Homo sapiens: one gene and its partners. The protein of the gene in region 3 purifies or fractionates together with the protein of the main gene of each other region. This does not show direct contact. Each region holds a gene or a part of one and is shown on either strand. Other genes may lie near its edges. The genes, in order: RGPD8, PPP2R2D, IER2 and KDM5C.

Region 1 (6,800 bases), on a different chromosome or scaffold from region 3:
ATTCAAAAACCCAGTAAAATCTCAAGCAGTATTAAAAAAAAAAGAAGAAATCTACTTCTAGTCACATAAGAGTAAAACTGCCCCTAAAAAAGACAGAGAGAAATCTCAAAAGCAGCCAGAGAAAGAAGACACATTGCCTCACAATAGACTTCTCAACAGCATTGGTGTAATACTATCTCATGTACTAAAAGAAATAACTGCCAACCTTTTATATTTTCCAAGATCTCTTCTGGAAAACAAAAACTTTAAGAATCTGCCTTCACTGGAAATTCTTAATGATGTACTTCAAGCAAAAAGAAAATTTCCTAGGTAAAAGGTCTAAGATGCCAGAAAGAAAGACATGCAAAGGAAACTTACCACCATATTACAGATATGGACTGTCAGTCTGACTGGTCACACTAGGGGCATTTTGTTACCAAGGCCTTGAAAATAATAACCAACACTGCATACATGAGGGATGCCAGAAGAAAGGTCTGAGAGCCACTCTTCCTGGCACTGAAGGAAACAGGGCCCATCAGAGCAAACAAGTACCTTTTGCCTCTCTCATCTCCTTGGAGGCAAATGTTTATAATCTCTGGTTTTGTGTAAAGTTTATAACAGTATTTTTCATTCAGGTTGCTACCTATTAGTGGATGGTGAAATTAATTTGGTGGATCACATTCAGGATATTTTTTTTTTAAATCAAAAGAATACAAGCTGGGCTCAATGACTCACACCTGTAAGCCCAACAGTTTGGGAAGACCAGGCAGGAGGATTGCTTGAGAACAGGAGTTCAGAATCAGCCTGGGCAACATGGCGAGACCCTATGTCTACAAAAATTTTAAAATATGCCAGATCTGGTGGCATGTGCCCATAGTCCTAGCTACTCGGGAGGCTAAGGCAGCAGGATTGTTTGTTAGAAGGAGTTCGAGGCTGCAGTCAAACTTCTGGTCGAAATCCTGGTCACGCCACTGCATTTCAGCCTGGGCAACAGAGTAAAACCCCATCTTTAAAAAAATATTAAGAAATAAAAATAATATGTGAAACGTTAGAATATGTTGAATCTGGTAAGGATAAGCAATTATTTCTTGAAACTCTACATATATACATGAGTGTTGGTAAATACCTGACTGTATCATCAGCTCTAGATATAAAATGTTTATGATGTTGGCTGTGAGTTAATGAGGAATAGTTTTCCTTTCTGTGGGTTTGGGTGTATTTGGGAAACATTAGCTTAGGGGGGTAAAGTAGGTTACCCAACTCTGAAAAGCAGCATCAAAATCTTTATAATAAACACATATTAGGGGCCCAACTTAAATTTCAAGCAGATGTCATGAGCTGCTCAGAGTAGCGTGTTACAACTCTGCGTTATAAGGTAAAATGACTTAGAGTGTAGCAGTAGTCCCCAATGTCAAATAGACAGTGGTAAGTATAGATTGCTCTTCTCCTTGCATCACAAATGTTAATTCACCCTGCCCCCACACGCATTAAAACTCAGCATATTTCACAAATTGAGTGTTTCATTTCTATTTGAGATAGACTTATGGTAAGTCAGCTTTGCTCCCCAAATAAGTTAGCCATATAGTACTTCTATATGCAAAATTTGAATCTCAATTTTACTACTAAAGCTGGAAGTAAAAGTCATTTTTCTATATCTTCTTTGCTCCCAGACTGGGTTACAGTTTACAGATCTGAATATTGTCACTTGTACACCATACATACACAGAGGTCTAAAACTCTCTACAAGTAAATAAAGAAAAAAAGCCCAGCAACCCAATAGGAAAATAGGCCAAGCCTGTTATAGGCTTTTTGATCATCTCCAGACTGGCAGGAAGAGAATGCATACTCACACTGTAAGTGCCTGATTTGATTTGCAGAGGATATAGAACCTTATCAGAAAACAGCCTTCCAAGGCAAGAGCAAATGCACCCTATCTAAGCACAGCTTTTCTCCAATTCTTATTTACCTAAGGAGATGAATAGCTGCCAGGAACATTGTTTGCACAAGGGCAGGAGCCTGCCAGATCTGAGAACACAGCAAAATTTTTATTTTGTCAAAAATCTTATATTCAGCTTACACCATTCATTTCAGGTGAACATACAACAGTCTGCATTTCAGTTTAGGGAAATGTTTACAGTCGTCTGGTTCTCTTTATTCTTGGGAACAAGGTTACCTCACTTGGAACACATAACCAGTGCCAAGTTGTCCATCCCTAAGCAATATCGCTTCCTCCTACTTTCTAGAAGTTCTTCAGGTTGTGGAAGACAGACTTTTCAGAATTGTTTGCCCTCATTCCCTCCTCCAGAAATGCATGCCTTTGTATAATCTCTTCCCCTTGAGAGCCAGTAGGCTAACCTAATGAGTTATGTTTAACCAGTAGAATACAGCAAGAATGATAGATTACAAGAGATTGTGGCTTCTATCTTGCTAGCGGCCTCTCTCTGTCTTCTCTGCTTGCACACTTTGTTGAAGCAAGCTACCATCCCAGAGGCAAGGAACACAGGCCATCAGTTTAGCAGCCTTGAGGAACTAAATTCTTCCAACTACCACATAAGTTTGGAAGTAGATTCTTCTCCAGTCCAGCCTTCAGATGAGACCCCAGCCATGCCAACATCTTGATTGCAGCCCTGTGAGAGACCTTGAAATAGAACCATTTCTGATCTCCTGACCCACAGAAACTGTGAAATAAATATGTGTTAAGGTACTAAGTTTGTAGTAATTTGTTACGCAGCAGATTGTAAATAACACGCAGATAAAACCAGACAGAACAGAAAAATAAAATGACTTGTAACTCTAGAAAGTTTCCCCATGTAAAATTTTGAAAATGCTACTCTGCCTAAGGTCAAACTGTCATACATATATACGTATGAAAACACAGAAAGGTGTCTGGAAGGGTAATACCAAATTAAATCTTTATCCAAGAGGAATGAAAACCAGTATTCACACAAAAACCTATGCACAAACCTTGTGAATATATTAAAAACCAGTGAATTATGCACTTTAAAAAGGTGAATTATGTGGTATATGAATTATATCTCCAAAACATTTAATTAAAAACCTGTACACAATTATTCGTAGAAACTTTCTTTAAAATTGCTAAAAACGAGGAAGATCTCAGTTATCCTTCAACTGGCAAATGAATAAACAAACTGGTACAGCCGTGCAATTGAATACTGCTCAGCAATAAAAAAGAATGCACTGCCAGTTCAGCAACATGGGTAATTCTCAAATGCATTATGCCAGTTGACAGAGGTCAGACTCAAAATACTATGTACAGTGTGATTCTACTTATATGACACTGAAAAAAGCAGAACTATAAGGACAGAAAACAGGTTAGCGGTTGCCAAGGAGTGGGAGAAGCAGCCAGGGAGAACTTTGAGGAGATGAAAATGTGCCAGGCCTTGGTCGGTGGTGGTACGTAACTGTGCATTTGTCAAGACTCAGTGCTATATGCTGAAAAGGGCAGGTTTTACTATAAGTAAGTTGTACCTCAATAAACATGATTTTTAAATGATTAAAACTTTGGTTTTTGTTTGTTGTGGTTCAGTTTTAAGGTTTCCCATAAATCTATTGGTTTTAGATTCTAAGTTGTATATAAGCTTCTGTTTTAAAAGAATTTTTTTTAAAATCCTCTTATCGTCAACAATATTTAGTTGTGCTGGAAATTTTATTTTGGAATTGTTTAATAGAGAAAGACAATAAATAATGTTCAAGAACAGACATTGATTCATAACATCAAAGTATATTGTGAGAAGATGGTATTTCAGAATAGAGGAAGAATTTCTTATGTGCTGGTAAGATTGTTTGTAGATAATCATTTCTGCATAATTTTCATAGCTGGATTGCTTTAATAAAGCCATTTAAAGGTTAAGTTCTAGATTGCTTCATGTTGCTTATCAATGTTTTAAAGCTAAAATAGAAAATTAGCTGTTAAGTTGGCTCAACCGGAAATTCAGTATATCCTTTAAAAAGAGAAATTTAGTAAGCAGTGTGTCTAAAGAATGACATATGGTTGGGTACAGTGGCTCGTGACTGCAATCCCAACACTGTGAGGCTGAAGTGGGAGGATCACTTGAGCCCAGGAATTTGAGACCAGCCTGGAAAACAGTGAGACCTGCATCTCTACAAAAAAACAAAAAATTACCCAGGCATGGTGGTACACACCTTGTGGTCCCAGTTGCTTGGGAGGCTGAGGTGGGAGAATCACTTGAGCCTGGGAGATCAAGGCTGCATTGAAGTCTCATCACGCCACTGCACTCGAGCCTGGGTGACAGAGCAAGACCCTATCTCAAAAAAAAAAAAAAAAAAAAAAAAAAAAGAACCCCCCCCCCCACCAAAAAAGGCATGTGATCAGTAAAAAAGACATTATTTGCTTATATTGTAGAGTGGTTCTAAAATATAGATTTTACATTGAGAAATTTTAATACTCTCTTTTTTCTTTTTTTTTTCTTTGTTTTACTTTCTAAAGATGAGGAAGAAAATCCTTCCCGTTCTTCTGGATGAGCATCCTATCTTCGTAGTTGGTTTGGACTTCGATAGGTTGATGGAAGGAATACTTCTATTAACCAAATAGAATCTGTTTACAAAAATGGTTCGTGTGTGTTACCATTATTCTTTTGTCAAAAAGTGTGTATATGTGTTTGCATTTACATATATTTGTACATCTGTATGACAGATGTATTTTAAAAGTTTCAACTTGAAGTAAAAGTACAACAGCTTGAAGTGTTGATACCAGGCCACAGCCCTCTAACTCATGTGATCTCCCATGCATGCTGCCAGAATAAAACCACCAGGAATGAATTCACTCCCCACTTCTCTGGAACCTCAGGACCCGCCCATTTCTCGGCAGTACTGTGAATTTTGAAGTTAAACTAAATTTTGGTACCATACCAACTGGAATTTAGGCTTTAAAAATAATGTTTCAAGGCCAGGTGTGGTGATTCATGCCTGAAATCCCACTACTTTGGGAGGCTGAGGCTGGAGAATCGCTTGAGGCTAGTGAGCTGTGATTGTACCACTGCACTCCAGCTCGGGGAACAGAGCGAGACCTTGTCTCTAAAAATAATAATAGTAATAAAAATAACGTTTTATGACTATTTATTGCAAGGTCAGATTTACAGATTGTTATAAATTGTTGAGAAATTTTTGTGATTAGAATATGAAGGAAAAAGCTTTGTTGGTAAAAGTGACATGTTAAGGGGCTATGAAGTAAATATGCTGCAGTTAATTGTGCTAAGTTAAAATACAGTTTAGTTATTTGCTTTAAAATAAACTCTTCTTTTTTTCTTTAAAGTATACTACCTCAAAACTCATTATGTTGTCAGAGCCCTAGAGCTGGCTAGTGTAACACTGACTATGAGTAGGTGGGCCCACCACTTGAGTTGAGGTGATTTCATGGTGTCTTTCCAGGCTCTTGATAGGGTGTCACTGCATGCAAGCCATGAATCTGTTTTGAGAATCCTCTCCATTTTCCCAAATAAAAACCTATCCCAACAGTGACTATATCACTCAGCATTGGATCTAAATATAAAAGTGGTGCTTTCAGTGTTTTTGGCAGATAGTGTTCCATAACCTTTCCATCAGAAGGGATTTTAGACACCTTAGAGGTCCGTGCTACATCTTCACAGTTCCTCCGAATAACCTTAGGTGGTAGTGTTACTTGCCTTTGACACCTGTGCATATGTTTTAATGACTAGATCCAAACTGTGTTGTTCTTAAATCAAAAATTGGATAATTTTTAATATTTATGTATTAATCACACAGTGTGCTCTCTGAAGTTCTCTTAAGCCTTCAGTTTATACTCTTAATTTTCTTTCTGAGCTGGGGAACTGACTTTGCACTTTGGTTACACAGAACATTGGTTTCCAATTTAGTTTAACTGAAATTTGCTGCTGATATGTTGAGTTTGTTCTTTAAAAAATATCTCATATATCTCGTCTTTCCTCCTTAGAAGAACAGACCTAACTAGCGAATGTATGAATGAAAATGCATCTATTTCAGAGCCGACATGAAGAGTTTAGTTTTTTTACTTTATAAACTGTGAATATGAGTATGCCAGCTGCATTAGATGTAACTAATCATATTTAAATATATTTCACTTTGACTTTAGACCTTTTGAAGTCTGTATAAACTTGTTTTGAAATACAGTCTCCACTTACGAATGTCATAACAAAATACTTTTTTGCATGATAAAAAATTACTTTGATTACAAAAGGCATATTCTTTCATGGTTTCTGCAATGAGAGGAAGTGTAATGATTATTTTAATATTTCTATTAAAACTGTATATTTTTATGGCTGCTCTTTTATGTTACCCACTGTCTCTTTGGGGTTGTTAATTGGTTTCTGAAAGGGAACTTCAAACTCCTTTACTACTGGCCTTCCATGGTTGGTCCCTATTAGGTTGTTGTGAGAACGTCGACCAACTCTTTGATACCCGCCAGGTAGACCGTAGTACCTGCCATGTCTGACACCCTGCATCCAGCTAAAACCAGAAACAGCGCTGGGCCTCCCTGTGGACAAGACATTGATTTGACCAGAAGCAGATGTCTGGCTAAGGCTGCCAACCAAAGGGTGGCCTTAGATGAAGGGCTTTGTTCAGTTAGGGGCAGAGGTCATTAATTTTTTTTTTTTTTTTTGAGACAGAGTCTTGCTCTGTCGCCCAGGCGTGAGTGCAATGGCGCGATCTCGGCTCACTGCAAGCTCTGCCTCCCAGGTTCACGCCATTCTCCTGCCTCAGCCTCCTAAGTAGCTGGGACTACAGGCGCCGGCCACCATGCCCGGCTAATTTTTTGTATTTTTACTAGAGACAGGGTTTCACCG
Region 2 (7,148 bases), on a different chromosome or scaffold from region 3:
GCCATATTGGCCAGGCTAGTCTCAAACTCCTGACCTCAAGTGATCCACCCGCCTCAGCCTCCCAGAGTGCTGGGGTTACAGGTGTGAGTCACCGTACCCAGCCACCCATCTCTTATCTCTCACCAACATCTCTCCCTCAAGGTTGCGTTTGGGCATGACCAGCTTCTTGATCCTTGCTGCTCAGCAATCCCTGGTGACTAACGACTACACTTCCCTTCATCATCACTGACTCTCTGGTGTTAATACAAAGCAACGGTATCACAACTATGGGACAAATCGATGGTGACTTATAAATGTGTTAATCTGGATGGGTTACTATGGCCAAAGCATACATGGATTAAAATAGACAGCTCTGAATACACAGAATAACCAAAACACATGCAGATAATTACCACAAAGCAATGTTACAAAAGAAACCACGACAACTCGAAATACCAAACTTTTGGATTTACTCAAAATTTAACTTAAAATAGGGATTTAAAACTGCAAAAAGTTCCCATCAGTTTAATTCAGAGAACAAAGTATTTGTCAAGATTTTTTTTTTTTTTTTTTTTTTTTGAGATGGAGCCTTGTTCTATTGTCCAGGCTGGAGGGCAATGGCACGATCTCCACTCACTGCAACCTCCACCACCCGGGTTCAAGTGATTCTCCTGCCTCAGCCTCCCAGGTAGCTGGGATTACATGCATGTGCCACCACGCCCGGCTAACTTCTGTATTTTTAGCAGAGACGGGGTTTCACTGTGTTGGCCAGGCTGGTCTCAAACTCCTGACCTCAAGTGATCTGTCCACCTTGGCCTCCCAAAGTGCTGGAATTATAGGCATGAGCCACAACACCCGGCCCAAGATTTTTTTTAAAGAAAGAATACTATTTTCATATGTGTACAGTCACATTTAAAATATACTACCTTAGTTATACTTAAATTTTAATTCATTCAGCTTATCAATAATTTTTTTTTTTTTAAGTAAAGAAACCAGGCAGGTGCGGTGGCTCACGCCTATAATCTCAGCACCTTGGGAGACTGACGTGGGCAGACCACTTGAGCCCAGGAGTTCAAGACCAGCCTGGGCAACATGGCGAAATCCCCTACAACAATACAAAAATTAGCCTGGTGTGGTGGTGCACGCGTGTGTGTGGTCCTAGCTACTTCAGAGACTGAGGTGGGCGAATCGCTTGAGCCTAGGAGGCAGAGGTTGCAGTGAGCCCAGATCGCACCACTGCACTCCATCCAGCCTGGGCTACAAAGTGAGACCCTGTCTCCAAAAAACAAAATAAAGAGTTAACAGAAATTAAGGCAAGCATTAAGCCCTCTCACTTTCCTACTCCCAAACAAGTTTTGCTTTACTTGCGACAGAAATCACACTTGAGTAAGGCTGAACTGTCACTTGCTTAGCATATGCAAAATCAAACAAAAAAAGTAATGCATTTTAAAGAAATAAAATCAATAAACTTTTTAGATCACATAAAATGCACCTAGTTTTAATCTCAAACCATATATATTACGCATTTCTTAGAGCCCAGTTTCACCTGCTTAATAACCTAGGCCCTGTTTGTCCCAGGGGGCGCAGAATCTCCAGATGTCCTCAGGGGTCATGTGCCAAACCAGACACTGCCAGGGAGAGGTACAGGGTAGGGAAGAGGGAGTAAAAGTTCACGGGGTTGGGGGGGCCGAGATGGAGGGAAGTGAACAGGACGTCTGACAAGGGGCTTTTAGTAACTTGAGGCAGGGAAGGTGTATTTGGTGCAAACACCAATCATTTTTAAGAAAAGGTTAAAGGTTTACAATGTTCAGTAAGATGTATGAACAACAACAAAAAAGTCACTATGACTCTGAATCTGAAATATTAATCAAACTTCTAAGACTCGACCAAGTTCTCCATTCAACGGTGAAAAAGGAAAGCTACATAGCTTTTTAACTTTAAGGTGACAGGTAAGCTTCATGGGAAGCTGGGGTGGGAGGCACTTCCCAGTTCCCTCCCACCACCCTAAAACTTTGTGCCTGGGCCAATTTGAGAGTATGATTTAAGGAAAAGACCAGTGAACTTCAAGTAATACCATGAAGTTCAAGACTAAAATCTGGAATAGAGACCTTAAAATATATCAGTAGAGAAAGTAGCAGTACCTCACAGTAAAATTCAAGGATTTTAGAACCGCAGAAAGCAGACCTTAAGAATCAGGGAGCCGAGGCAACCAGCTCGCTCAAGAGCGCACCGCCGATGAAACGCAGAGCCTGGTGGGGGCCGAGGCCCCGACCCAGCCCTAGGCGCGTTCCCAGCCTCTGGGCCATTGTGCCGCGCTGCCCGAGCGCACGATATGGACTCCGTTCCCGTCCCCGGCTCCGCCGCGGTCTCCTCAGTTCCGCCCCAGGCAGGAGGCAGCCCCGGGCTTCGGTTCCGCCCCGGGCAGGAGGCAGCCCCAGGCGCTGGGTTCGGAGGACCCGGCCGCCCGTGACCTTGGTGACTTACATAAGTCCCGCCGCGGGCCCGACGCCTCCGCCCGTGCCCCGCGGGCCGGGACAGCGGACAGAGGACGGCCGCCCCCCGATCACGGCCCCCAGCTCGGCCCCTGGCCCCTGCCCCGCCCGGCCCCCATCCTCCTGCCTGCCTTCCACGGACGCTTGGGGCCCGGAGGCCGCGCGCGGCCGGGCTGGGAGCTGTCCGCGAGGGTCCCGGGGCGGGGCGCGGCGCGGGGCTCACCTTCGGCCACGTCCTCGTCGATGGCCCCCTTGACCTGCGAGAAGCACCACTGGAAGTCGTTGCCGCCCGCGGGGCAGCCGCCGCCTCCGGCTCCTGCAAACACAACGGGGCGGTCAGGCCGGCCGCGGCCCCCGCCCGCCCCCGTGGTCCCCGCCGGCCCGCGCAGACCCCTCACCTGCCATGGCAGCCGGCGGCGGGACGGGCGGGGACCGCGGCAGACCAGGGAGACGGCCTCCGCGCCGCTGCAGCCGAGCGCTCAGCCCCGGGGCCGCCACCACCGCCGGCGCCGCCGCCGCCGCCGCCGCCGCCGGGGAGGGATTTTTTTCCCTTTTCAAAATGGCGCCCAATGCCCGTCGCCCCGCTCGATGACGTCATCGCCCTCCGCCTCCTCGGACGGGCAGCGGACGGGGCGGGCCGCGGGGGCTGCCGGGGGCGCCCAATGCGCCTGCGCCCGGCGCCGCTCGGCTGTAGGGGGGAAGGGACGCCTGGGCGACTGCGGAGGGAAGCCGGGGTCGCCGGGCGCAGGCCAGCTCCTCGGCCCTCGGCCCTAGGCCTCCCGCAGTGGTCCGGTGTGCACCCGGCGCTCCCCAGAAGACTAGCGCCGCCGGCCGCCCCTACTCTCCGGGGACTCCCGGAGAGCCTAAGCTGCGGCCGGACACGCCTTCAGGGCGCCGCTTGGCCGGACACGCCCCCATCCCGCATCGGCCAATGGAAACGTGGGTTCTCCGTGGAACCGCCAATGGAGGACGCGCTTGGCGGCGGTGGGCGGGCATGTGGGCCGGCCTCACCTGAGCGCGCCGTACCTGAGCGCTGCCTCCCGCCCACTGCCCCCGACGCGGAGTCTCGCTCTGTTCCCCGGGCTGGAGTGCGGGGGCGCGATCTCGACTCCCTAAAAGCCTCGACCTCCTGGGCTCAATCCATCCTACTGCTTCAGCCTCGGAAGTAGCTGCGAGCACAGGCACGCGCCGCCAGGCTCGCTGATTTTTAAATTTTTTGTAGAGACGGGGGTCTATGTTGCTCAGGCTGGTCTCGAACTCCTGGGCTCGAGCCATCTGCCGGCCTCGGTCTCCCAATCCTGTCCACCTCCCTTTCGGAGCGCACCGTTGCTCACCAGATGGCTACCTTAGGGGTTCTTGGAGCTCCCAGTGCAGTCTTAGGGAAACAGGGCCGATCGTTTCATTTGCGGGTGGTTTTCTCTGGCATACTGAGCGATCATGGGTGCTCCTCGACTTACAGTGGGGCTACCCTCCCCGCAAATAAGCCCTTCCTAAGTCAAAAATGCATCTAATACCCAATCTACCCGTCGTAAAGTTGAAAAATCTGAAGTCGAGCTATCATCAGGGGGACTGTCCCTATGGGATTGATGTCCGGAATCAGAACTTCTTTCAGGGTAGCTGCGGTGGGCACTGATGGTATTGCACCACTAAAAGACAGTCGCTGCAAATCAGGAACATTCGTCCACTCCATTAATATTATTTATTGACAGCTCCTGCCACGTGCGGCACACTCCACAGCCCTGGGGGTGAGAGGTTAACAGAGCAGAGAAATCTCAGCCCTGGTAGAGCTTACCTTTCAGTGGGGGAGACAGACAATAAGGAAATAAATACATAATAAGTCGGAGCTGGAGAGAAAAATCAGGGAAGAAGGAAATGTGTATGGGGAGAGTTGGAGTCTTGCACGGGGTGACTGGAGAAGACTCAAGGATAAAGAGCAAACCATGCAGACGTCTAGGAAAGCTTGGCCAGGAAGGGGAGACCACCAAGTGCCAGGACAGGAAGGAGGGCCATGCCTGGCATGGGCAGGAGGCAGCCAGAAGCTGCGTGGGTGCAGAGTGAGTGGAGGGGAGGCCAGGGGTTGGAGTCAAGGCAGGGAGGTAAGTGGAGGAGGATGGACAGTGGGCAGGCCATTTAGGGGACTTGGACTCTGAATGAGATGGGCTCATGAACAGAAGACGATCGTGATGGACTTGGGCTTTTGGATGCTCTGCTGAGAATAGCTTGTGGGGACCCAAAGAGGGGAAGCAGGGAGACCAATCAGGTGGCCAGCTGGGCTGACCAGGCATGGGGATGAGGATAGAGTGGTGAACATGGGGTGGGGTGGTGAGAACCAGTCAGATTTCAGAGAAAAGTGCTTCGACAGCAGAGCCCCTGGGATTTGCTGATGGAAAAGATGCGGTGTGAGAGAAAGCAGGGACTTAGGAATGCCTGCTCTCGGGTGGTCTGAGCACCTGGAAGGATGGAGTTTCTGCAGCAGAAGGCACAGCTGGGTGGGGGCGGTGCAGCCCGACCAGAGGTTCGCTGTCAACACATAGTGCTGTTGCACAGACAGGCTGGGAGCACACAGGGAAGTCAGAGCCAGAGCATCAAGGTGAGAGCATTTAGAGGTCATTTCAAGTCAGGAAACTGGGTGAGGTCACCTCAGGAGGGAGGACAGATGGGGGACAGGACCAAGGACAGAGCCCTGAAGGGGTGAGGACGTGGAGGATGAGTGAGCAGCCTGCGAGGTGGGCTCCTGGAGAACCCATCTCCAGGATCCACTGAAGACAGGAGGGAGTGGCTGCTCTGTGATGCTATGTGATGAGTATACAGGAGTGACCATTTGGTTGTAGGGACTGGGAGGCCATTACTGACTTGGACGGAGCGGTGGCTATGGAATGGACTCAGATCACAAGTTTGCAGAGGGCTCTGGGGACAGTGGCAGGAGAGGAACTAGAGGCAGTGAATACCTACTTCTCTGTTGAGGAGAAGAAGAGCAGAAAAATGGGGCTGTAATCTTGTTTTTAAAATGTAGATTTAGCCTATCTGCCCAGGAAGACACTTGAAAACCTGAATTAATGACCAGATCTCTTTTATTTGTTAACTTAAAAACCTGACAATTTATAAATTTAGAAAAAGAGGAACTTTATTTCTTATAAATGGTTACAGCCAGCAAGGTGGCCATCCCCCAGGCCAAGATGGGAGATGGCTCTTCGTAGGAGGAGGAGTTGGGGCAGGAGCTCTATGCTGAACGGGTTGGCTAAACATACATAGACAACAGGCTTTGGGAGGAGCTATGAATACTCAGGAAGGGGCTCCTGACACGTGTATTATGTAACATAGGACCCAATCTCACTCTGTCGGGGAGACTAAACATTTGAATATATTACGACTGTAATCCCAGCACTTTGGGAGGCCAAGTCTGGCAGGTTACCTGAGGTCAGGAGTTCGAGATCAGCCTGGCTAACATGGCGAAACCCCCTGTCTACTAAAAATACAAAAATTAGCTGGGCGTGGTGGCGCCCGTATGTCTGTAGTCCTAGCTACTTGGGAGGCTGAGACAGGAGAATCCCTCCAACCTGGGAAGCAGAGGTTGCAGTGAGCCGAGATCGTGCCGTTACACTCCAGCCTGGGCGACAGAGCGAGACTCCGTCTCTAAATAAATAAATAAATAAATAAATAAGTAAATTAGGACTAGGCCCTGTACCTCAAGAGGTCTTTTCAGGACAGGAAGGCATGCAGATGTGCAACCTCTGTAAACCGGCCAGAACCAGTCCAAGGTCGGTGGTTTCTTATCAGGAGACAGTTACAGTCTTCTGTCCAATGAAAGCTGTAGTTACGGCTGCTGGAGCAGGGCTGGGGGTCACTTAGTGGCTGGTGGAGCTGCAGTTGCTTAATGTTGCTCCTATCAAGGCCAGTGCTTATTTAGCTGCTGGAGGGAAGGAAAACCCAACAGCAGTGGGAACGACGTTTTCTCTGTAAGTGTGCGGTGCGTGGCTTCACCCTCCCCCCGCACGGCCTTAGGCCCTGTTTATGATTTGGCATCTTACTGCCACAGAGTCCGTTCTGTCAGTCTTATGGTCTCTAGTTTAACGTTAACGCTGGTCTGTTGTGTCCAAACCACAAAAGGGCGGGGGTATCAGGAGGCCTGTCTGACCTCCCATCCCCCATTATAGCCTCAGTGTTGAGGTTTTCCTGGGGCCCCCCCTGGCCACAGGGGTGTTCGTTCAGCCAGTGGGGGATGTAGGATTTTATTCTTAGTTCCTATGTAACTGCTTTAATGTGTGTTAAATATGTCTTTTGAAGTGATGACAAGATAATTAGTTTTTGTTTAGAATGTATTTTCTGGTTCATTAGCTCCCATTAAATTAAACTAAAAACAAGATATAGCCACAAAAGTAACATATTCCTGAGACTGGGGGGCTGCCTTCCCTGCGTCCCACTGTGCATCAGCTGACCAGCAAGAGATTTTTAACTATTTTTTAAAAAGAGATTTTTAACTATTCTTCTTATGATGCTAAAAACTTAAAATATTTGGCTAAACCACAATGACTTTTGCGCCAACCTAATAGCTCAATGAATTTCTCTGTTTGGATTCTAATTGGTGTTTACAAGTTTCTGAGTATTGACAGCAATTTTATTTTTTAAAATTGTTTTTCAGATCTCACAGCTGAATTGAAAATGCCTGGTGTGTATTAG
Region 3 (7,538 bases):
GCGGGTGCCTGTAATCCCAGCTACTAGGGAGGCTGAGGCAGGTCAGAATCACTTGAACCTGGGAGGCTGAGGTTGCAGTGAGCCGAGATCACACCACTGCACTCCAGCCTGGGTGACAGGTTAAGACCTTCTCTCAAAAAAAAAAAAAAAAAAAAAAATTACCGGGTGTGGCAGTGCATGCCTGTAATCCCAGCTACTTGTGAGGCTAAGGCAGCAGAATCGCTTGAACCTGGGGGGCGGTGGTTGCAGTGAGCTGAGATCGCACCACTGCATTTCCAGCCTGGGTGTCAGAGTGACCTTGCCTCAAAAAAAAAAAAAATAAAATAAAATGGGAAGAGCTAGAATCCGTGTTTCCTGGGTTGAAATGAGGATTTAAAGAATTAATTGATGGGGGACACTTACAGCAGTGCCCAACACATAGTAATGCTAGTAAATGTCACATTTTACTATTTGTTTATTTTTGGGGGGATTTTAGCTGGGATTACAGGCACCTGCCACCACATCCAGCTAATTTTTGTATTTTTACTAGTGATAGGGTTTCCCCATGTTGGCCAGGCTGGTCTCGAACTCCTGACCTCAAGTGATCCACCTGCCTCAGCCTCCCAAAGTGCTGGGATTACAGGCGTGAGCTACCATGCCTGGCCCAACAGATGTTTGTTTGTTTGTCTGAGACAGAGTCTTGCTCTGTCACCTAGGCTGGAGTGCAGTGGTGTGATCTCGCCTCACTGCAACCTCCACCTCCCGGGTTCAAGCAATTCTCCTGCCTCAGCTTCCCAAGTATCTGAGATTACAGGTGATCACCACCACGCCTGGCTAATTTTTGTATTTTTTGTAGAGACAGGGTTTCATCATGTTGGCCAGGCTGGTCTCGAACGCCTGACCTCAGGTGATCCACTTGCCTGGGCCTCCCAAAGTGCTGAGATTTTAGGTGTGAGCCACCGTGCCCGGCTCCAACAGATGTATTTTAGAGTTTGGACTTGAATTCCCCCAAGGCAGCACATCTGGAAGGCACGTGGGCACTGCTATGGGATGACAAACTGGGAGGAGCCTCAGTCCCCCACCCTCCCCGACCCCACGTACGCTTATGAGGGAGAGAGAAAGGCTGGTGGTTCTCAACATATGAAAAATATCAACAGAGAACACCAAGAGAAAAAGTGGACTGACAGAGGTGGTTGGGAGAAACACAGAAACACACACACACACACACACACACACACACACACGGCAGGCACATTACAGAGGAAACTAGCAGATATTAGGATATGAGGGGGGAAAATGCAGATACACTCAGAGGCCAAGTGCACGCACCCAAATAGGTTAGGTGCATGCACAGATGAAAAGGCGGGGGCGGATCACCTGAGGTAGGGAGTTTGAGACCAGCCTGGCCAACATGGGGAAACCCTGTCTCTACTAAAAACACAAAAATTAGCTGGGCATGGTGGCACACTCCTGTTGTCCCAGCTACCCAGGAGGCTGAGGCAGGAGAATTGCTTGAACCCGGAAGGTGGAGGTTTCAGTGAGTCAAGATTGCACCACTGCACCCCAGCCTGGGCAACATGCCAAGACTCCATCTCAAAAAAAAAAAAGGAAGCTGGCCGGGCGCGGTGGCTCACGCCTGTAATCTCAGCATTTTGGGAGGCTGAAGCTAGTGGATCACAAGGTCAGGAGATCAAGACCATCCTGGCCAACATGATGAAACTCCGTCTCTACTAAAAATACAAAAATTGGCCGGGCGTGGTGGCTCACACCTGTAATCCCAGCACTTTGGGAGGCCGAGGCAGGTGGATCACGAGGTCAAGAGTTCAAGACCAGCCTGGCCAAGATGTTGAAGCCCCGTCTCTACTAGAAATACAAAATTTAGCCACGCATGGTGGTGGGTGCCTGTAATCCCAGCTACTCGGGAGGCTGAGACAGAATTGCTTGAACCCGGGAGGCGGAGGCTGCAGTGAGCCGAGATCACGTCACTGCACTCCAGCCTGGGCGACAGAGCAACACTCCGTCTCAAAAAAAAAAAAAAAAAAAAAAATTAGCCGGGTGTGGTGGCATGTGCCTGTATTACAGCTACTCAGGAGGCTGAGGCTGGAGAATCGTTGAGCCCAGGAGGCGGAGGTTGCAGTGAGCCGAGACTGCGCCACTGCACTCCAGCCTGGCAACAGAGTGAGACTGCATCTCAAAAAAAAAAAAAAAAAAAAAAAAAAGGAAGTTATGTGCGATGGCTCACGCCTGTAATCCCAGCACTTTGGAAGGCTGAGGCAGGCAGATCAGTTGATGTGAGGGGTTTGAGACCAGACTGACCAACATGACAAAACCCTATTAAAAATACAAAAATTAGGCCAGGCGCAGTGGCTCATGCCTGTAATTCCAGCACTTTGGGAGGCTGAGGCAGGTGGATCACCTGAGGTTGGGAGTTCAAGATCAGCCTGACCAACATGGAGAAACCCCGTCTCTACTAAAAATACAAAATTAGCCAGGCATGGTGGCGTATGCCTATAATCCCAGCTACTCGGGAGGCTGAGGCAGGAGAATTGTTTGAACCCAGGAGGCGGAGATTGCGGTGAGCCGAGATTGCACCATTGCACTCCAGCCTGGGCAACAAGAGTGAAACTCCATCTCAAAAAAAAAAAAAAAAAAATACAGAAGTTACCCTGGCATGGTGACGAGCACCTGTAATCCCAGCTACTTGGGAGGCTGAGGCAGGAGAATCGCTTGAACCCAGGAGGCAGAGGTTGCAGTGAGCTGAGATCAAGCCACTGCACTCCAGCCTGGGCAACAGAACAAGACTCTGTCTCAAAGAAAAAAAAAAGAGTAAAAGGCAGGCATGCGTCCTGGAAACAGGTGCACACAGGACAAATGGCATGGAAGCAGAAAGGAGATAGGTACACAGGCCCCCAGCCCTCTCCTGCAACAGGAAACCAGTATAGACCCAGAGGACACAGTAGAGAGGAACCCACGGACATATACACATAGAGAGGTTCAGGTGCACACACCGAGAAAGTGCAGGCAGGTAGACAGCAAGAAGATAACTGCCCACAGAGAGGACGGGCACTGTCGCAAAAGGGACAGGTGAACACGCACAGAGGGATCTGGCTTGGTTACCCCCAGGGGCTCAGGTGGGCAGGGTGGGTCAGGAAGGCTTACCTCTCTGTTATTCCTCTCCAAAAATGCTACGGCTGTTGGGCTGACCATATGGTCCTTCATTTCCTGGAGGTAAGGACAGCATTAGGGAGGAAAGACACTCAGGCTGGGCGCGGTGGCTCACGCCTGTAATCCTAGCACTTTGAGAGACCAAGCCGGGTGGATCACCTGAGGTCAGGAGTTCGAGACCAGCCTGATCAACATGGTGAAACCCCGTCTCTACTAAAAACACAAAACTTAGCCGGGTATCGTGGCAGGCACCTGTAGTCCCAGCTACTCAGGAGACTGAGACACAAGAATCGCTTGAGCCTGGGAGGCGGAGGTTGCAGTGAGCCGAGATTGCAACACTGTACTCCAGCCTGGGCGACAGAGCGAGGCTCTGTCTCAAAAAAAAAAAAAAAAAAGAAAGAAAGAAAGAAAAAAAAACACACTCAAACCTTCCCCCACTCCCCGCCTGCAGGACCTTTCCTGACCTGGACTGCCTCTCGCATCCGCTCCACGAACACCTTTCTCTCCTGCAGGTCCCCGGCTGGGAGCTTGAACTTGCCTGGGTTGGCTTCCACTATACGTGGGCTGAGAGTCAAGGGTCAAGGCCGGAGCCAGATATCATCCCCGTCCCTAGGGGTCCAGCCCTACCCGAAGGTGGGCTGCCACCGCAATGGGCTCTCCCATGCCACCCTCTGCCACAAAGCCCCAGGATATCGATGGTCTCTTCCAGGTCCTCGAGGTCCCACTCGATGCTGCGCAGGCCATTCCGCAGCTCATTGGTCGTCCAGTCCAGCTCCTCGCGTCCGACCGCCGCGCTTTCCTGCAGGAGCTCGCACCAGCGCTGGTACAGCCCGCGGGCCGTGTTCACCGCCTTCTGCACCTCGCTGCGGGCAGGGGCACGGCGGGCGCGGCTGGGGGCAGGCGGTCCTCCCGCCTGCCTCTGCCCCCGACTGCAAACCCAAACGCATGGGGGACTCCGGAGACCCCTATATACCCCTGCGTGCGCCTCCCACTCTGCACCCCGACGGCCTTGCCCAGCCCGCCGGGCACGCTGGGGCCGGCACCCGGGCACTGGCTGGCTTGGGTACAGAGCACCCTCCGCCCTCCCCCGTCGTTGTCACTCACCCTCGGACTACAAAAAAGGGGTCTTCGAGAGACATGTCAGTCCCTTCCCCCCCAGGCCGAACCCCCCTCCCGGCCTGGGTTCGCGGGCTGGTTCCCTCCCAACCGAGGAGAACGCGCCGCCACCCCCGCCCCCGTCACGCCACCATCGAGAGCCGGACCGCCAGGGGAGAAAGAGAAGCCTCGGAGGCCCGACGTGCGGACACTTCCGCCCTCTCCTCAGCCATCTTGGTTGTGGGCAGAGGCAGCTTCCGGTGCACATGCCCCCGCCCCTTAGCCCTCTCGTGCCGCACCGTAGGGGGCGGTGTCGGAGTTCTGTCTGGGCCTATTCGGGTCCGAGTTCGGAATTTCGGTTCAAGGCCCAGTTCCTCGGATTGTTCCTGCGCAACTTCAGTTTCCCTTCCAGGCACGGGCAATGTAAATAATGATAGCCTCCCTCATCTCTGGCGGCTGGGTATTATGGCTGGGGAAGGGGCTCATTCGATTCGTTGAAGCTTTTCATGGACTCCCTGAGCTGGCACCTGGGAGATCGTCCCATCCCAGGGTCCCGAGTGTCAGGTTTGGCTAGGGTCTGGGGGAGAGGTGGTCCTCCCTTCTCCCTGCGGGGGCGCGGTGAGGAGCGGGCCTGCTCCTCCGGGGAGTTCTGCCGCATTCTCCCAATCTCTTTCCTGAGAAGTGGCGGAGTTGGGGGCACTTCGAGGTCGCCTTGGGGCGAGGTGGTCGTGAGGGGGTCCCAGATATGCCAGCAGCGGGGGGAGGTCACCTTTGAGAAAGTGCGTGGAGGTGGGTTTCTTCAGAAGCGCGGAGTCTTTCTGGGTGCGAGCCTGGGGGTAGCGGGTGGTGGCTTTGAGGATGGTCTCCAGGGGGGCCCTCTGTGTGTGGGGTCTCCGTCTGGGTAGGGGCCAGGAATATCAGCGGAGGGACTCAGGGTCGTCCCTATGTGTGACAGTGGCGCTGTGTGTTGGGGAGCTTCGGGAAAGCACTTTTTTTGAGTGATAGGGGGCCTGGTCTCCCCTGGAGGGTGGGCGGGTTATCTGAGGGAGTCCTCGGAGGGTCGCCCCCTTGCGCGTCAGAGTTGCTGCGTGGGGTCTCAGAGATAGCGCCTGGGCTGGGGAAATCATTGTGGGGTCTCCGTGGTAAGGTTAGCGGGGTGGGGACGGCCTGCGTCTTCGGCAGGTCGTCGCAGTCTGGCACCATCGTTGAATGGGGACGAGTTTGGGAAGGGTATTTTAGGGGGGAATAACTTTTGAGTTCCCAGCGTGCGGGGGAAGGGCGGGACGGGAGGGTGTCCCAAGGCCTGAGAAGATCAGTGTGGGGCAGGGGTCAGGAATAACCTGGGAGGGGGCCTTGTATGGGGGAAATAATTGGGAAGAGGAGAGATGGGATGAAGGGGGCCTCAGCGGGTCGTCTCCTGTGTATGCAGGGTCGTTCTGCAGCGTCTCTGGGAGATGGCGTCCCTGGGAGCCCTCAGGTCGCCCCTACCCGCTGCGGGGTGCTTTCCTGGCGTCACGCCTTCCTGGCCCCTGGAGGGAAGGAAGTGAAACTCTCCTCTTCCCCCACCCGGCTGGAATGCGAGTCAGGAAGCCTGGGGCTCCAGCCTGCTCCGGCTGCCCGGGTCGGGGATGGGGAGGGGCGTGGCCGGAGCGCAAAGCCCCGCCCCTCCGCGCCCCCCCCCCGGAAGCCCCGCCGCCGGCCGCTAAGGCGATCACGGGCCCTGTCCTAATATGGGCAACCGGAAGCGGCCCGCGCGACTGCCCTACGTCACTCCGTCCAAATTTAGTTGTGGAAGTCAGCGGGCGCTGGTGGCGGGAAGGCGCCGCGAGCCAGTGCGGGCGGAAAGGGGGCGGGGGGCGCACCACCCCTTAAAGGGCCCGCACCAGGAATGAATGGAGCCATTCGAACAATTCTGCATCCTATTTTTGGAGGAAGTGGAATTAGTATTTCTTGGAGAGACGGCGCGTAGCGGAGGGTAGGGCGGAGATTTTCTATCTGCTCTGTCTCTGCATTGCTGGGTTTCCAGCTCCCAACCTAACCCCGCCTCCCCGAACGCGGAGACGGAACTCGGCCCCCTTGTTTGGGGGGCGGCAGCCACGTGTTCACGGGGACTGTCGTGCGCGCCGGGTTCGCAGCCGTGCGAGCTCTGAACCCACCCGTGGAGCTCCTGTCGCGGGAAACTGCGGGGGAATGGCTTGGTACGAATCACGGGAACCCGTAGCCCGGGGCGGGTCACCGCCTACAAGCAAGGGCTGGCGTACGCTAGAGACCGAAGAGCTGGAGGCCCCAGTGGCCCCCTTTCACAGCAGTAGCAAATATTGTTTGTTTAGTAAATATTGGCCTAGTGACTCTGCCTTGGTTTCCCCACTTGAAGGAAGCAGATAGAACAGTATCCTCCGAGGAGTGGAGGCTGGGGATCGGTGAATTATTGATAAAAGGAGAGCTCTTAACCTAGCCTGGCACGTTGTAAGCGCTGTTAGCATGATTATTGGTGCAGAAAACACTCATTAGACACACCTGGTAAATGCTAAGAACAGTGGCCACAGGGGATGTTCAGGCTGGAACCAGGGTCTTCCCCTGTGTGAAGGGAAACTTGCTGCCCACGACCCACTGGGGCCTCCAGACGGGAGCATGTGGGTAGGCCGTGAGCTCCACCCCCGGCCCCCCTCCCTTGGGCCAAGGCGCTGATGCATCGGCGGGGCTCAGAGAAAGGAGCCCACCCAGAAAGCTCAGCGTGGAGTCGGGGGACGCTCCTCCTCGCCAGGGTTCCCGTCCCCTTTCCCTGCTGGGTAAATCGCATTCTGTCTCTTTAAGGAGTGTTTGGCCGCGACGAGTTGGAAAGCCCGGATGCGTCCTTCGGTTGGGCGGGGTGTCTCAGTGACGTCACTGGGGGTATAAAAGGGCCTGGGTGGCGGGCGCCTGGGCAGAGCGTCCTAGCAGTGTCACTGCGTGGGTTGGTTTGTGTAGAGAGGCGTGAGCGAGCCCGTTGTCCGGAGTGCACCTGCTGCCTGTTCTGTCCCTCCCGGGAGCCCCCGCCGCTGTCGCCGTCGAGTCGCCATGGAAGTGCAGAAAGAGGCACAGCGCATCATGACCCTGTCGGTGTGGAAGATGTATCACTCCCGCATGCAGCGCGGTGGCCTGCGGCTGCACCGGAGTCTGCAGCTGTCGCTGGTCATGCGCAGCGCCCGGGAGCTCTACCTCTCGGCCAAGGTGGAGGCCCTCGAGCCCGAGGTGTCGTTGCCGGCCGCCCTCCCCTCTGACCCTCGCCTGCACCCGCCCCGAGAAGCCGAGTCCACGGC
Region 4 (7,120 bases), on a different chromosome or scaffold from region 3:
GGAGAGACAGTGAAAGAGAAGAAAAACTGTTGACCTCTTCTGCACACACACTTTTAGAAAATGGGCTAGAGGACTCATATTTTGCATGCATACACAGACCACACTCCCCTGCCCCTACCAGCCAAAGCAGGTGGCAAACATCTGGGGCTCAGTAAGCAGGGACAAAAAAAAAAAAAAACAGGCAGGCCAAAATGGTATGGCTCAAATCCAGACAAGCTCCCCATGCCCTCTTGCCTCTCATCAGGATAGGGCACTCCCCTCAGCACAGGTAACCCAGCTAAAAAGGTGCTCAAACCCAAAACTCCGGGCACCCTTCTTTCCTGCTGAATCAAGTTCTAGACAATCAGTGCAACATCAAGCACCTGACAGGAAATGGCAGCCCTGGAATGCTACGGCAGGAGCCATGGATGCAACAGATACCTGGGAAGGCCCTGCAAACCGCCTGCCTTCATCTCCAGACTACTGTATGCCAAATGTATGTTGGTATTACTGGGATGTGGTGATAAAAAAAAGGCTGGCTACCTGATGAAGAAAGCAAGATCCTTCCAAACTCCACTGGGTCTACTCAGGGTACCCACACTCTCCTCCCACCCATCTTTCCCAAGCGTAGCAGTCACCTGCCCAGCAATTCAGGCCCCAAACCATCCTTCCTCCAGCAAACCTCCAATTCCCAGGTACCCACCCATATACAGGTTCCCACCCTGGGCCCAAGCATCACTTGAGCGAGTACTTCAAACTTCAACCAGAAGAAGGCCAGCTGCCTAAAGGTGGCCTAGGAGCTGCCATAGAGAAGGAAAAAACAAAACCAAACCAGAGAGCCAGGTATCCTGGATTAGAGAGAAGCACACTGTTGAGCAGTGAAAAGGACGGCCTCCTGCTGGCCATGCACACCTGGGACATGTCACTCTTCCCCTTCCTGATGCCCCAAAGCAGGGTAACAACACCTACACAAGGCCAGCCTGCCTAAGTCAGTCCAAGATAGAAAAAAGGAATTCAGGCCTCAACTACCCCCTACGTCAGCTATGCCTCTTTTTCCCACAGGCTTGCCCAACCACTTCAGGGAGTGCCTCCTTGAGGCTGCCCAGGACTCCTGCCTCTCCCTTCCACTAGCCTTCCTGACCCTCTACCCACTGCCACTCCCTCACCATGGACAAGGATACCTCAGAAATCTGTGGCCAGACTCCAAGAAGGAAGAAATTCGCTTACCCAACACCTCCTAGAGGATCTATCTGAAACCATCCTAGATCTGTGGCTGAGCACCAGAAAGCACCAAGTTGGATAAGGAGGCCTGTGGTGCCCTCCTCAGGTGGGAATGAAGCTTCCTATTCCATTTCAGCCAGGAGACACCCACTCAAAAACACCCTTTTCCAGCAAAGCTCAATTTCTGCCCTTGGAATCCCAACTGATCACTGAACATTATCATCACTTTTCCACCATATCAGCAAGGCAGCAGCTTGCCCTAGCCCTTGGGAGACTTCTAGCCTGAAGCCAGGCCTAGGAGGAAAGCTATGGCCTTTGTTGCTGACCCCTGGCAATCATGTTCCAAAAGGGACAGAATTCCATGGCTCCATTCTGTTCTGCGGGCCCAAGAGTGCCCTATCCTCTGGGATCTCCTACATCCTGGACCAGAGGAGAGTAGAAATCTTCTGAGAAGGACTCACACCCCACCACCAAGCTGACCGGTCCAAACATCTCCATAGGAAGTCAAGTCTGCGGGATGATGTGCAGAAAAGGCCTTGACATTGCCTTCAACGAGGAAAAGAAGAGGACAATTCCCTGAACCCACCTCAAGGGAGACAGAGCAATCCCTGTGAGACTGATTTCCTGACTGGTCCAGCAGGCCAGGATATTATCATAGATGAATTGGCCTGGCAAGGTATGAGTAAATATGAGTCAACCTACATAGGAATAAACCAATGACCACATCAAACACCCTCACAGTCACAATAATTACCACTTATCTAGTGCGTACTACATACAGACGCTACCTAGTTTAATTCAATCCTCTAAATAACCATTTCTGGGATCCATTTCACGGGCTCAGAGAGATTACTTCTACTTTCCCAAGGTCACACAGCTGCTCAGCTTCAAAGTGGAGTTTTGAACTCAAGTCTGTCTCCCTTCAGGACTGCGATCTTTCTATTAATACTATACTATGCTGCCTGCCTTAAAGGAAGTGATGACAACAGATTGGAGAAACGTCTTATTTTTACAGCCTCGACCTAGGTGGCCCGGGCTAAGAGATGTGCGGGGTGCCTCTCTGTGAACTCCCTCCGGCCCACTAGGAATCCCTGTCTTAAACCCGGAGTGATTCTGAAGGGCCGGGGTGGGGGTGGATCTCTGACTCCAGGTCACCTGTGGGCCTCACACCACGAGAGGACCCCTGGCCCAACACCCTTTTTCCGATCCGCGCCGCAACCACAACGGTCCCAGCCACCCCCTCTCCCCACCTCGAGCTGCCCTCCGCCCCAGACTTCGCCGCTGGCTATCCTACTGCTTCATTCCGTCTCGCCGCCGGCGAAAACCGGCCCCGGGGCTTACCGCGGGTGGGCGGATCTTGCAAATGCCCGATTTCTCTGCGATGGGCCTGATTTTCGCGATGTAGCCAAGAGGGTCTCGGAACTCGGCCCAGCTAGGCTCGAACACCGGGCACTCCGGTGGCGGTAGGAAATCGTCGGACCCCGGCTCCATGGTGGGCCCGAGGTCTGGGCCAGGGATCGGGAGGCTTGGACCGCCCTTAAGGACTCATGGCGCCGCCGCTGTTTGAAGCCGAGGCAATGCTCGGAGGCTAGGCCCTAAGCGGGGCAGCCGCCGCCCGCCGAGGGCCTAAGGGGGCGTGTGGCCGTCGTGCTCTGAGAGTCTCAGGCTGACTCTACTGCTACCGCCTCTTCGTCCCGCTCCGTTTCTTCCAAACTGTGTGGTTGCCTCCCCACTACCGCAGCCTTCGCCACCACAGTTACCTCCCAAACGCCGCGGCCTTCAGCGCCGCCGCCGCCATCTTGGTTTGTCAGCGTCTCCCCTCCCCACACCACAACAAACCGGATCCTTCCGCGGGGTGTCCTTCCGAGCCTCGTATACGTTGCGTCACACCAAGCCCTAGGAAACCTTCATATAGTGGAGACCGAGCTAAATAGGCTGGTATGGGTTTCTATTTGGAAGGGGTTACTCAAAAGTACCACCCCGGACTGAGAGAAAATAGTTCATTGCAACGGCGGAGGAACAAGATTGTAATTAGTTTGCCGGATCGTCTTTCCGGATGGACCGGCGGTGCACGTTTAAAGGCCAGTGATGCGCATGCGCGTTATGGAGACCGGAAGAGGAGCTGGTGTCCGTGGGTGGTGGAGTCAAACCGGCACTCCCCCGCAGACCTCAACCAGGTCGCTAGCCCCGCACCAGTGTTCTCTGTCCCTTCTCCCTGGTCTTAACGGTATGGGCCGCGGAAGGCGGCTCTGGGAGCCTGATTGCAAAGGACCCCTTATGCTGGCCCGCGGGATGGGGGGAGATGTACTAGGCTCCAGCTCTAGACACTGACACCTCTGGGGCTTTGAAATAAGGAAGGCAGGAAGCTGCTCACTCCCCGGGGATTATGGATTTTTAGGATTCTGAGTCCCAAGTAAAGGAAGGAAATCTTTATTTCATCCAAGGTTACAGGTAGAGAGATGGGGTTTCGATTCTTACCCCCCAAAAGTCACTGGGAGTCAGCATTTTAATGAACGCTTTCAACTGTTCTGTATTCACTTTTACCATGTACACATTTGTGGCATATACTCCTACAAAATAAGCCTGTGTGTATGTATACTTTAACTATTGGATGTTTAGCAACGGCGTATTTATCCAGTGTCAACTGTGTAAAACACCTGTTTGCCCATTTGTGAGCCTACAGTGCACTTACCAAACATCCGTGTACTTTTATTGTATTTATTGTGTATAGCCCCTGTGCATTTGGTACCAACTGTATGTACATTTAGTCCTATCGTGTGCATGTTCCTTGAGCAGTTTCTGAATAGGTTCATTGCAACTACAGTACTTTGAATGAGTATCATCAAACCAGTACTTTGTACATATACATCAGGCATCTACTGATTGGAGGATCATCTGTGTCATTCATCAGCTGTGGACCTACTGCATATAGTTTGAACACCTACTGTGCAAATATTTGAGTACTTGCGTACATGCTGATTAAGTAATTTTGTTTTCCCCCATCAGACTATGAATTCCTTAAGGGCAGGGACCATGTGGCCTTATACATCCTTAGCACTTGGCATGTTAAGCAGTAAATGAATGTTGAGTAAACAAAAGAAAAATGAATAAATGTCCTTAGTATATATTGACTGAAAAATATGAATACTTTTTGCAAACATTTCCTGTTTAACATATTAAACATCCACTGTAAGCTCGAGGCAGATAGGGAGTGTCATACCTTCGTGCAGTTAACTGTTCCTAATCAGATACTGTGCCAATTAGGTCCATCCTGCCTACTTCAGGACTGAGCTAAGGACATCCTGGCTGAGGGAACAGGGCACACAGGTAGGAAGGAGCTCATGCCCTGGGCTCAAAAGAGTCATGCCTTGCAGTCCCACCAGCTCTGCCATTTTCTAGTTTGTAACCTTGAACAAGTCCCAACTTCTGTAACTGAAATGGGGATAATACATACCTTGCAGAATTGTTGTGTACTTGGCACATAGCAGGCCCTCAGTATCTGGTAGCTGTTATTTTTATTTCTGAGAGTCAACAACCAATATGCCAAAACTCATTAAGAATCTCCTTTGTGTCAGACACTGTGCTAGTGCTTTTGTATTTTTTTTTTTATCACCTGAATCCTTATATTACCTTGAATGTTCAAGATCTTTATCCCCACTTGGCTCGTGTGGAGACTTGTCCCAAGTGACACAGATATTAAGTGACATCTTTCTAGTTTTCTAGGTGTCAGGGGAAACCTCAGCCCCTCTCCACCAGAAACACAGGTGGATGATCCAACTGAACAGCTGTCTGGACAGGAAGCAGGAAAACTAGGCAAAGTGATGCTAATCACAGTAATATCACTAGCCTCTCACATGGATAAGCATCTAATTGCCTACATGGCTAGTTCATACCAATTATTTCCCTTAATCTTTGCAACAGTCTTCAGAAAGATGTAGGTGAATTTACCCAGTCTGTAGATGAGGAACCAAGTTCCAGAAAGATTAAACAACTTGCCCAATGATACACAGGAAGTTGCTGACTCTGGTCAAATGCTCTTCCTGTCGTTTGCCCTCACCAGGAGTGGAGGAGGTGAGGGAAAAGGGAGCTGCTGGGGTGGGAGGTAGAGTGGTGGGGCAGGGCCCAGTCCTTGGCAATATGGGGCATGCAGGGCCTGGAGCTTGGACTGCCCATCGGGCAGCACCCCCAGGCCACCGTGGCTGTGACCGTGATGGTGGTAGTGGTGGTGGTGCGTGGAAGAAACAGATGAAAAGGAGGCAGAGGCCTGGCCAGAGAAGGGTGAGGAGAATCTAGAAGGTGGGAGAATACGGTAGATCTTAGGCCGAAGGAAGTTCAGCCTTTCCATCTAGAGGCTCAAGGAAGTACAAAGAGCATGAATCAGGAATCAGGAGGCCAGATTTTGGGTCTCAGCTCTGCACAGTCTTCCTACAGCCTTCTTTGAGGTCCTTTAGCCCAGACACACCCGTCCTAGAAGATTAAATAGAAATTATGTAGTCTTTGAAGCCAATGAGATAGAATTTATTCGTTTACAAATATTTATTAAATTTCTACTATGCACCAGCAAATTTTCTGGGCACTGGGAATATAATGGTGACCAAGACAGATGTAGTCTCTACTTTCCTGGAGCTGACATGCACCCACTGAGATCTGCCAAGTACCTCATCTTCCTGAGCCTTGATTTTCTCCTTTGTATAATGAAGCTAAATAATCCCTTCCTCACAGTGTTGTTAGGAGGATTAGAGATAATGATGACTGCCATTCATCAAGGGCCAGGTGCTATGAAGTAGGTATTGTTATCCCCATCCTACAGATGAGGAAACTGAAGCTCAGGGAAGTGTAAACTTACTCAAGTCACATGGCTAGTAAGTGGCAGGACCAGAACTCAAACCCAGGTCTGTCTGACTGCCGTACAATTCTGCCTGTAAGAGTCTCAGATGGTGCTCCCCATGTAGTAAGGCATTCAGGAAATGGGTTTGTTCCCCAAGCCATGGGTCTTGCTGGGGGACAACCGGAGTCTAGACGCTGGGGACTTAAGAATTGGGATGCATCAGGAAACTCACTCCAGGCTGGGGGCTGGCTTGGCCTCACCCATCCACCCGGGAGACAGGGTCTGACATGGAGTTGGTGCAGAGCAGTGACTGGAAGGCTCGTCTGGGCTCAAAACCACACGCACCCCATTCATGTTTTGTGGATCAACTGGGCTGACACTGACTTTGTGTCTCACTTTTTTTGGTTTGTAAAATATGATCTCTTCCAGTTCTGAAGTAGGTTTAAGCTGTTGGTTCTGATTCCTAAATAGCTCTAGAATCCATCCCCTCCTCCTTGCCATCTTCCACTCCTCCTGTGAGCCTTTTACTGTCTCTAGCCTGGACTCTTAAAAGAGCCTCCTCAAGGTATCTGTGTGAACTCATGGTTTATTAGACAGAGACAGAGAAATATCGATGTCTAGTATAGAAATATAGATGTATAGTATGTGCTTATACATATACATAACAATAAAATGATTTATCCAAAGTAATGTTAATTCAAAATGAATTATGATAGTAGTGGATTACAACTCACTGGTTAAAATAAAAATCCATGACTCCACATTGATATAAGTAAATAAAGTGAGAGAAAAGGGAAAGTAGAATTCTAAATTATATAGAAGGAATGATGGAGCTAGAAATCATCAATGGATGCTCAAACCTTTGCAAAATAAAAGAGCAAGCTCTTAAAATATTGCTGTAACACCTAGTGCCCAAATCTTGGTTTCTAAATGTCATTCTCTACTAAAAAGAACCGGGGCTCCTTGGAAGGGCTCAGAAAAAGATGGAGATGTGCCACAGGACACAGGGGCTTAGAGGGCTTCCTACTGGCCAAATCTGGGGCTGTGAACATCAAAATAAAGAATGATGTTAATGGGTTATATATAACCCAT

Evidence for each region.
Region 1: the proteins of IER2 (region 3) and RGPD8 purify together in Homo sapiens (affinity purification with mass spectrometry; 3 studies listed by BioGRID and IntAct, with this or other methods). This does not show direct contact.
Region 2: the proteins of IER2 (region 3) and PPP2R2D purify together in Homo sapiens (affinity purification with mass spectrometry; 4 studies listed by BioGRID and IntAct, with this or other methods). This does not show direct contact.
Region 4: the proteins of IER2 (region 3) and KDM5C purify together in Homo sapiens (affinity purification with mass spectrometry; 3 studies listed by BioGRID and IntAct, with this or other methods). This does not show direct contact.

Annotation. Positions count from the first base shown.
Region 1 is NC_000002.12:112,367,860-112,374,659, reverse strand, and holds the end of RGPD8 (RANBP2-like and GRIP domain-containing protein 8), read left to right. Parts: intron 1-4,447; coding exon 4,448-4,482; 3' UTR 4,483-6,291; downstream 6,292-6,800.
Region 2 is NC_000010.11:131,896,877-131,904,024, reverse strand, and holds the start of PPP2R2D (serine/threonine-protein phosphatase 2A 55 kDa regulatory subunit B delta isoform), read right to left. Parts: upstream 3,018-7,148; 5' UTR 2,877-3,017; coding exon 2,870-2,876; intron 2,788-2,869; coding exon 2,695-2,787; intron 1-2,694. UniProt on the Homo sapiens protein: Substrate-recognition subunit of protein phosphatase 2A (PP2A) that plays a key role in cell cycle by controlling mitosis entry and exit. Involved in chromosome clustering during late mitosis by mediating dephosphorylation of MKI67.
Region 3 is NC_000019.10:13,145,891-13,153,428, forward strand, and holds the start of IER2 (immediate early response gene 2 protein), read left to right. Parts: upstream 1-4,520; 5' UTR 4,521-4,662; intron 4,663-7,053; 5' UTR 7,054-7,296; coding exon 7,297-7,538. Other genes in the region: STX10 (syntaxin-10), read right to left, coding at 3,139-3,201, 3,609-3,703, 3,838-4,007, 4,249-4,283. UniProt on the Homo sapiens protein: DNA-binding protein that seems to act as a transcription factor. Involved in the regulation of neuronal differentiation, acts upon JNK-signaling pathway activation and plays a role in neurite outgrowth in hippocampal cells.
Region 4 is NC_000023.11:53,222,199-53,229,318, forward strand, and holds the start of KDM5C (lysine-specific demethylase 5C), read right to left. Parts: upstream 3,010-7,120; 5' UTR 2,692-3,009; coding exon 2,542-2,691; intron 1-2,541. UniProt on the Homo sapiens protein: Histone demethylase that specifically demethylates 'Lys-4' of histone H3, thereby playing a central role in histone code. Does not demethylate histone H3 'Lys-9', H3 'Lys-27', H3 'Lys-36', H3 'Lys-79' or H4 'Lys-20'.